Linked DNA regions of Homo sapiens. Changing the gene in region 1 together with any one later gene gives a genetic interaction. Each region holds a gene or a part of one and is shown on either strand. Other genes may lie near its edges.

What was found.
Region 2: changes in OPHN1 (region 1) and FLT3 together harm fitness less than expected from each alone (positive genetic interaction), as found in Homo sapiens cells (one study listed by BioGRID).

What each region holds. Positions count from the first base shown.
Region 1 is NC_000023.11:68,430,634-68,435,200, forward strand, and holds the start of OPHN1 (oligophrenin-1), read right to left. Parts: upstream 2,863-4,567; 5' UTR 2,535-2,862; intron 2,392-2,534; 5' UTR 2,388-2,391; coding exon 2,234-2,387; intron 1-2,233. UniProt on the Homo sapiens protein: Stimulates GTP hydrolysis of members of the Rho family. Its action on RHOA activity and signaling is implicated in growth and stabilization of dendritic spines, and therefore in synaptic function.
Region 2 is NC_000013.11:28,048,267-28,052,076, reverse strand, and holds part of FLT3 (receptor-type tyrosine-protein kinase FLT3 precursor), read left to right. Parts: intron 1-1,854; coding exon 1,855-1,982; intron 1,983-2,302; coding exon 2,303-2,442; intron 2,443-2,539; coding exon 2,540-2,693; intron 2,694-3,633; coding exon 3,634-3,802; intron 3,803-3,810. UniProt on the Homo sapiens protein: Tyrosine-protein kinase that acts as a cell-surface receptor for the cytokine FLT3LG and regulates differentiation, proliferation and survival of hematopoietic progenitor cells and of dendritic cells.

The DNA.
Region 1 (4,567 bases):
CTAACGTGGTGAAACCCCATCTCTACCAAAAAATACAAAAATTAGCCAGGCGCAGTGGCACATGCCTATAGTCCTAGGTACTGGGGAGGATGAGGCAGGAGGATCGCTTGAAACCAGGAGATCCAGGCTGCAGTGAGCTGAGATCATGCCACTGCACTCCAGCCTGGGCGACAAAGCAAGACTTCATCTCAAAAACAAAAATTGAAAAAAAAAGAAAGAAAAGGAAAGAATAAAAACCTTTACTTGCCCCTAGCTTATGAAACTTTTGCTCTTCCACCATGTTTTATTGAACTACTTTTTTTCTTATAAATCTTAATCTCTCTGATATGCCTTAGCTGGTGATTTTTAGCATGCTTTTAGTTACCATCCACTTCACAAAGCCATTCTGTTCCTAGGGCTTATGATGAGATTCGTTTTACTGGGGACACAGCACCAAGCAGTTTACTGTAATATATAAACAAAACAAAACAAAGCTGAAACATTCCTCCTTTTCCTTTCCGTGAACTCTCACCTTTCTACTTATGTAGCACAACCTGCATATCCTTAACCTCTTAAGGATCAGCATTTCAGATACTACTAGGAGTTTACTCTTGGTCAGGCCACAATAAGACAAATCATTAAAAGATCAAACACAATCAAATGACCTGCAGGAACTTCGACAGTGTACATATTCTGACCAAAAGTGGGCAGAGAGCATGTGAAGGAAAAGCACCGACTCCACAGGGCAAATCAGAAGGGCTGCACAAGAAATACCAGCTGGCAGCAGTTACCAACACACTACCACTTTCTTTTCTTTTTTTGAGATGGAGTTTCACTCTTGTTGCCCAGGCTGTAGTGCAATGGCACGGTCTCGGCTCACTGCAACCAACATCTCCTGGGTTCAAGTGATTCTCCTGCCTCAGCCTCCTGAGTAGCTGGAATTACAGGTGCCTGCCACCATGCCCAGCTAATTTTTTTTTTTTTTTTGTATTTTTAGTAGAGACAGGGTTTCACCATGTTAGCCAGGCTGGTCTCGAACTCCTGATCTCAGGTGATTCACCCGCCTTGGCCTCCCAAAGTGCTGGGATTACAGGCGTGAGCCACCTCGCCCAGCCTCGCACTACCACTTTCAAATCTTTCTTTCTCCCTGCTCTTGGTTGACTGCATCCGCCTAAGAAGGTTGCCACACTGGTCCTAGACCCTGTATTTGGTGATAAATTCACTCAAAACAAAGTTATAACCATATAGGACATACTTGCCAATGACTCTGAGTTTATTTTTCACAATCATCTTTCAGCCAAGAGAAAAAATTAATTATCACTCCACCCAATCATTACCCTCCATTCTTCTGTGTATATGCTTTGGCATAAAGGGTTGGCTTGCCTGCACTCTCGTTGGGGATGTTTATTATTCTTTCTTTTACTCCAAGCCTCCTACCAACAAGCAGAAAAAAAACCTCCACACACAATGGGGGAAGGAGAGAGCTTCCCACAGCTGAGTCAGCTGTGAGCACTGGAAAAGCGAAGCTAGGTGAAGTTCCTTCAGCCCAGCAGCCCCCAACCCTATCCCTATTTTACTCCCTGGGGGCTGGGCCCCTTGTGGCAGGGACTAAGTAGTCAGCTCTTTGTTCCACACTCAAGCAGAATTCAGTGGCAGGTGAAGCCATCCAATAATCCTGAACTTAGACTGACCTTGACCTAAACCATAGCTCAGTGTGATAAAGAAAATAATTCACTGGGGCAAAGGTGCTTTCCTTAAAAAATAACTTGCCATGGCGAATTTTTTACTGCCCCCCACACTTATCTGTAGCAACCAGAGACCAGGACAAAATTATTATTCAAGCTGCTGACCTTAATCCCCAATTGTTTAGGAGGTGCTGGGGCAGTTCCTTGGTCAGCTTGGATGTCACTTTGCCCCAGACAGGGGTGCTGAATATGTCTAACAGTACAGCAGATTGTCCCTTAAGAACAATCATCTGCCAAGTAAGGGTAATTGCTGAGCAAGAGGGTCCCTGGCACAGCTACGGATCACGTCTTATAAGGTCAAAACCACTAAAGGAAAAGGCCCAAAGTTCTGGTTGTATCCACCACTTTCCACTTCTACTATCTCCACTCCCCAAGTGTGGGAAACCCATTTGCCTCAGAGATCTGGGCTGGGAGTCACCCTGCAATCTCCCTTCCCCTGGTGGTGTGGAAAGGCTTAAAGGCCAGACACACCAGCTCAGAGAAACAGCTCATCGAAGCCTTGCACTTACTTCTCATAGCGCTGATAAGCGCGTTGCCGTCTTTGATTACGTCTTTGATGAATTTGTTGGTCCTCTCCAGTTCCTGCTCATAACACTTGAGCCTCTCGCGGAAATCGGGGCTGTCCAGGTAGCAGTCGCTGAACTCCAGCGGGGGATGACCCATGGTTCTGATGGCCGGGAGTAGGGGGAAAGGGGAAAGACACAAAGACCGAGAGCATCAATGGCACAGTAGAGGAAGTAGAGGGGACGGACTGAGCGCGCGACCCGCTTAAGGAAGCTCATAGCCTCCGTCCCTTTGGAGGACAGGTACCTGTTTCAGTGAGACTCCTGAGGAGCGCTGGCTGGTCCGGACAGAGAACAGGCGCCCCGGCGATGGCTTCAGGGCCAGGGAGAGCTAACTATCGCAGTCGGATCCCGGCAGGGTGCTGCCTAGCAAGCAGCATGTCCCTTAGGCATCGCCTTCCCAGATAAGCAGCAAAAACCGCAGCCCGACTTGCCTCCGGAGACGGGCCGGATCCTTCCTGAGCAATTGCAAACGTGACACTTGGGCCCGCCCAAGGTGTAGGCGAGGTTAGAGCTGGAGCTGGGAACAGCCTCTCTACAGGCTCCTCGCTCCGGAGCGAGCGGAAGACTTCCTTGGCCGAACTCCGCGGGCAACCCGGATTGCACTGTCCCCTCCCCTTTCTTAAAGCCAACGCCTGCGCCCCGCCCCAGCGAAGCCCGAGGACCAAACCGGAGCGCTCTGGCTCCTTCCTCAACTGTTTTCCTTGTACCTTAGAGTTTCCTGACCAGGGCCCGCTGGCTGCTAAGACTTCTTCCTGGTGCAAGGGAGCCGGCCGGCCGGCCGTCCTTTTAGGCGCCGGAAGGGTTAAGCCAGGGCGGCAATGAAACGTAGCCTCGCTCCATAGACACTGCAGCGGGAAGAGGAGGGCGAGAGCGCGACGCACAATAGCCGCGGTAGCCCAGCGCTTCCCTACGGAAACTGGGGAGCAGTCAGCGCCCTAGGACTCCAGCTGGAAAGCGTGGCGGCCTGGGAGATGTAGTCTTTCCGTTTGCACTCCCCAAGACTCCTCCCTGCAGTCTCCCCACCACCCCGCCTGGGAGGCTGCTCTCCCAGAACGGCATTCCCAGCCTGCCGCAGGCTCCTGCGCAGGGACCGGCCCCAAGGGGCAGGTGCGCGGCGCTGGACTCTGCGGGGGAAGTTTCCGAAACTAGAGCAAGAACCCGCAAGACTAGATTGCAGGAAGCCATCTCTCAATTCCCATGATTCGGCTGGGTTGTGTATTCTTTTGCCTTCCCCTCTTTCCAGCCTCCTTCGGACCTACCAACTTCTTTTCCTCTTTCTTTTCCCATGTCTCCTGCTCTAAGTGCTCTAATTCCCTTGGGCCTTCGACCTGAAGGGTTGATTCCTACTCTAGGGTCTCCGTGAAGCTCAGTGCCCCCTGCCAAAGAAAGGGAGGCCATAATTCAGAGTTAATATTTTCCTGAATAGGACCTCAGAGCATGGCTTTTGTGGCAGACGCCGATAATGCATATGATTTTCCATGTGTAAGTGGAAAGTCTAAGAATAGGATGTTATAAATTGTCTTGCAGCTTACCTTAAAGGCAGCTGTCTTGAGACTAAGGGTAGGTAGAGGCTCGAAAAACTAAAAAATAGTTTGTGCGTGGGCAAAGAGATCCCTTTAATTCTGCAGAAGTGTTTACATTAGATTGCCCTGTGAAGAAAGCCAGAACGGAAGGGGGTTGTAAATAGAATAATAGTGGCTGACCCACCTGAATTAGGGTCCTGTTGCTGCTGTGACAAATTACCACAAACTTGATGTCCTAAATCAGCATAAAGTTATAATCTACAGTTCCAGAAGGCAGAAATCAGAAATGGGCCTCACTGGGATCAAATCAAGATGTTAGAAGGGTTGTGTTCATTTTCAGATAGTCTAGGGGTAGAATCTGGTTCCTTACCTTTTCCGGCTCAAGCTGCTCACATCCTTTGGCTCATAGCTCCCTTCCTCCGTCTTTAAAGCTAGCACTGGCCAGTCAAGTCTTTCTCATGCTACATCACTGTGATTCTCATGCCTCCCCTTAAGGACCCTTATGATTACACTGGGTCCACAGGATAATCTCCCCCATCACATCATCCTTAATCACATCTGCAAATTTCATTTTGCCACATAAGATAACGTAGCCACAGGTTTCAGGACATGGACATCTGTGAAGGAGGAAACATTATTCTACCCACCACACAACCTATCGCCCATCTCACTAATCTTCAAAACAACCCTATGAGGATGGTTTTATTATTATACCCATTTAAAGATGGAGAAGCTGGGTCAAAGAGAGTTTAAG
Region 2 (3,810 bases), on another chromosome or scaffold:
AATAAGTAATACAGAATGGCCAATGTGGGCTTCACAGGGAGGACAAGGATTTTTTTGGTAAGGGGCTTTTTGGAACCCCTCAAATCAACTGCAGGGCCCTTCCTGGGCATCATGCTACACAAGTAAAAGTCCCTCTACGTTCCAGGATTGTTGGCTCCCTGGGCATCTGGTTGGGGCAAAAAGAAAGATACTGATTTTAAAGTAGAATTATCTTATAAGTAAGAAATTCTAGGCTGGGCACAGTGGCTCACGTCTGTAATCCCAGCACTTTGGGAGGCCAAGACCGGCGGATCACGAGGTCAGGAGATCGAGATCATCCTGGCTAACATGGTGAAACCCCATCTCTACTAAAAATACAAAAAAAATTAGCCGGGCGTGGTGGCGGGCACCTGTAGTCCCAGCTACTCAGGAGGCTGAGGCAGGAGAATGGCGTGAACCTGGGAGGCAGAGCTTGCAGTAAGCCGAGATCGCGCCACTGCACTCCAGCCTGGGTGACAGAGCGAGACTCCATCTCAAAAAAAAAAAAAAAGGGAAATTATAGGCTGGGCACAGTGGCTCACACCTGTAATCCCAGCAATTTGGGAGGCCGAGGCAGGCAGATCACCTGAGGTTGGGGGTTCGAGACCAGCCTGACCAACATGGTCAAACCCCGTCTCTACTAAAAATACAAAAATTAGCCAGGTGTGGTGGTGGGCATCTGTAATCCCAGCTACTCAGGAGGCTGAGGAAGGAGAATTGCTTGAACCCGGGAGGCGGAGATTGCAGTGACCCGAGATCGCGCCATTGCACTCCAGCCTGGGTGACAGAGTGAGACTCCATCTAAAAAAAAAGAAAAGAAAGGAAGAAAGAAATTCCTTGTGACAAAATGTTTAATTTCTGATTATCCTGTTTGTTCTGGGAAAGCAGTCTAATATGATTGTTTAAAGATATAGAATCCAGAGCCAGATAGCCTGGGTTTGAACCCTGGTTTGCTTAGCAGCTGTGTGGCCTTGGACAAGTTACTTACTCTCTGTGCCTCATCAGAAGAATGCGGATGACAACAGATACTTATAGGATTGCTATTCTGATTAAATGAATTGATATATGTAAAGCACATAGAACAGTGCCTAGCCAATACTAAGTAAGGTATAAATGTTTACATAGTTTTTCATATATGCCAAAGTTAAGTTCTTACAAAGTAAAAATTCATGCAGTTTGAACTAATTAAAATTTACTAAACAACTTTTTTTTTTTTAAAATAGGACCAAATAGAAGGAGAAAAAGTACCAAATACTTTGTTCCAAAGTGGTACAAAAGTTCGCTTTCTGCTGAGGCAGGGAGAGGGGTTTTGCTCTGTTGAATACTTGGGAGTCTTGGCTGACTTCCCTTGTGGGTGACACCTTGGCCCTCCTCTGTTCCTATGGGAACTCGGGTGACTTTTGAAACTTTAGCTTCCCCCTCCCTTACTGCGTCCCAAAAGGATGCTTACCTTGCTAAACTTCATGAAAGCCCAATCATGCTTTTTCTCTTCTCTCTTTCTTCTCTTTTTTTCCTTTATCTTCTTTCTCATTTTTTTCCCTTTCTTTCCCTGTCTTTAAACAACAGCAACAAAGAGATCACCAAACATGAACAATTTTAAACTGTTTTGTTATGTAATTCTCCTTAGTGTTATGCTAATTCATTGCGATAATGAGTAACTAGCTAGCTCCCCTCTGAGCTCTTAGCTGAAACCATAGATATGGGCTTGTTTACCTTTTGACCTTTTGTTTACCATTTGACCCTTAAAACTGGCTCTAGAACTTTGTTCTCCTCTTGAGCATTCATTTGTAATTTTAAAACTTGTTTAGCCAAATGGTACTTCTTTTCTAATTGCAGCTGTAAAGAAGAAAGTCCAGCTGTTGTTAAAAAGGAGGAAAAAGTGCTTCATGAATTATTTGGGACGGACATAAGGTGCTGTGCCAGAAATGAACTGGGCAGGGAATGCACCAGGCTGTTCACAATAGGTAACACTATAATATCATGCACTTTCATTTTCAGTGACCGGTTCTTAGCAACTATCAGGGACTAACAGTAACTGCGTAGGTGATCATTCAACTTCAGAAATCCTATCATTCCTTCAGGTCACAGTAAATGCAATATTATGGATTCTGTAAATGCTGATTTCTTCATAAAAGAGGAGTCAGTCTCTAAAAGCTTCTTTTATTAATGTGGTTAGTAATATTTGAGATGATGCTAAAGTCTTTGTTCAGAATGTTCAGGATATCTTTTGTGATGAGGCAAAAATCACTTTTTTTTTCTCACTTGGGATGTTTTCATCTCCTAGATCTAAATCAAACTCCTCAGACCACATTGCCACAATTATTTCTTAAAGTAGGGGAACCCTTATGGATAAGGTGCAAAGCTGTTCATGTGAACCATGGATTCGGGCTCACCTGGGAATTAGAAAACAAAGCACTCGAGGAGGTAATAGGACAAGTTTGTATTCTGAAAATGCAGGAACAATTAACTAATAGTCTGGATTGAAAACATTAAATGCAAACTCTGTTTTATTAAAACCTAGGGCAACTACTTTGAGATGAGTACCTATTCAACAAACAGAACTATGATACGGATTCTGTTTGCTTTTGTATCATCAGTGGCAAGAAACGACACCGGATACTACACTTGTTCCTCTTCAAAGCATCCCAGTCAATCAGCTTTGGTTACCATCGTAGGTAATGCAGGCTGCTCACACAATCTTTATTCCTATTTTTAGTCGCTGTAGTGTGGAATGTGAAGTATGTGGTACAAATTCTGATTTCAATATAATGCTACTATCAAACACTAAGAAAGAAACTGAGTTAGAATAGCTTTGCAAAGATAATCTGCCCACCCTCTTCCTTTTCCCGTTAAACCAGGCTCGCTTGAATGCCACTGTCTTTGCATATAACACATTGTAATATGACCATCTGTTTGTGTACTTTTATCCTCCAGTAGACTGTAAGTTTCTTAAGGACAAGAACAACTCATTCTATCCTTGTAGTTCCAGAACCTGACACAGAGCCTGACACAAAATGGACAATAAATACTAGTTCTAAGAACCAACTAACCGCACTGTTAGGGCAGTGAGCACTGAGAGACAGTACAAGCCCTTAGATGCACTGAAATTTTGGTGGGGTATGTAGGATCTGAAAATAACCACAGTTCAATAATCTCAGATTAGGGCACAGCGTTCAGCCATAATGAAAATGCCGAGAAATACAGCGATGCTCTTAGCAGATTAATAAGGAAGTGTTCCATAAGGCAACCTCGTGAATATTGCTAGCCAGATCGCTCTTTTATTTGTGCCTTGAGTTTATTTTACTCTCTCTCATCAATGGAAGAGTGGTGCTGGCTGAGAGCAGGGGCCAGACAGTCAATTATCTACATCCCATTCTTTTTCTTTCCTTCTTTCTTTTTTTAAACATTTCTTAACTTCGAAAGATGATGAGCTCAGGCTTAGAACTAGGGATAGGACTCCTGGGTTTTCACTTGGATTATCCAACCTGACCTGCAGCATGCCAACACTTGAGTTTTCCTGTGTTAAACTGATGAATACAAGTTTATTTTATCTTCTCAATACGTTTCCCTATGAATATTATTAACTAACTCATAAATGCCTATTTTTTCTTACAGAAAAGGGATTTATAAATGCTACCAATTCAAGTGAAGATTATGAAATTGACCAATATGAAGAGTTTTGTTTTTCTGTCAGGTTTAAAGCCTACCCACAAATCAGATGTACGTGGACCTTCTCTCGAAAATCATTTCCTTGTGAGCAAAAGGGTCTTGATAACGGATACAGGTGAGACC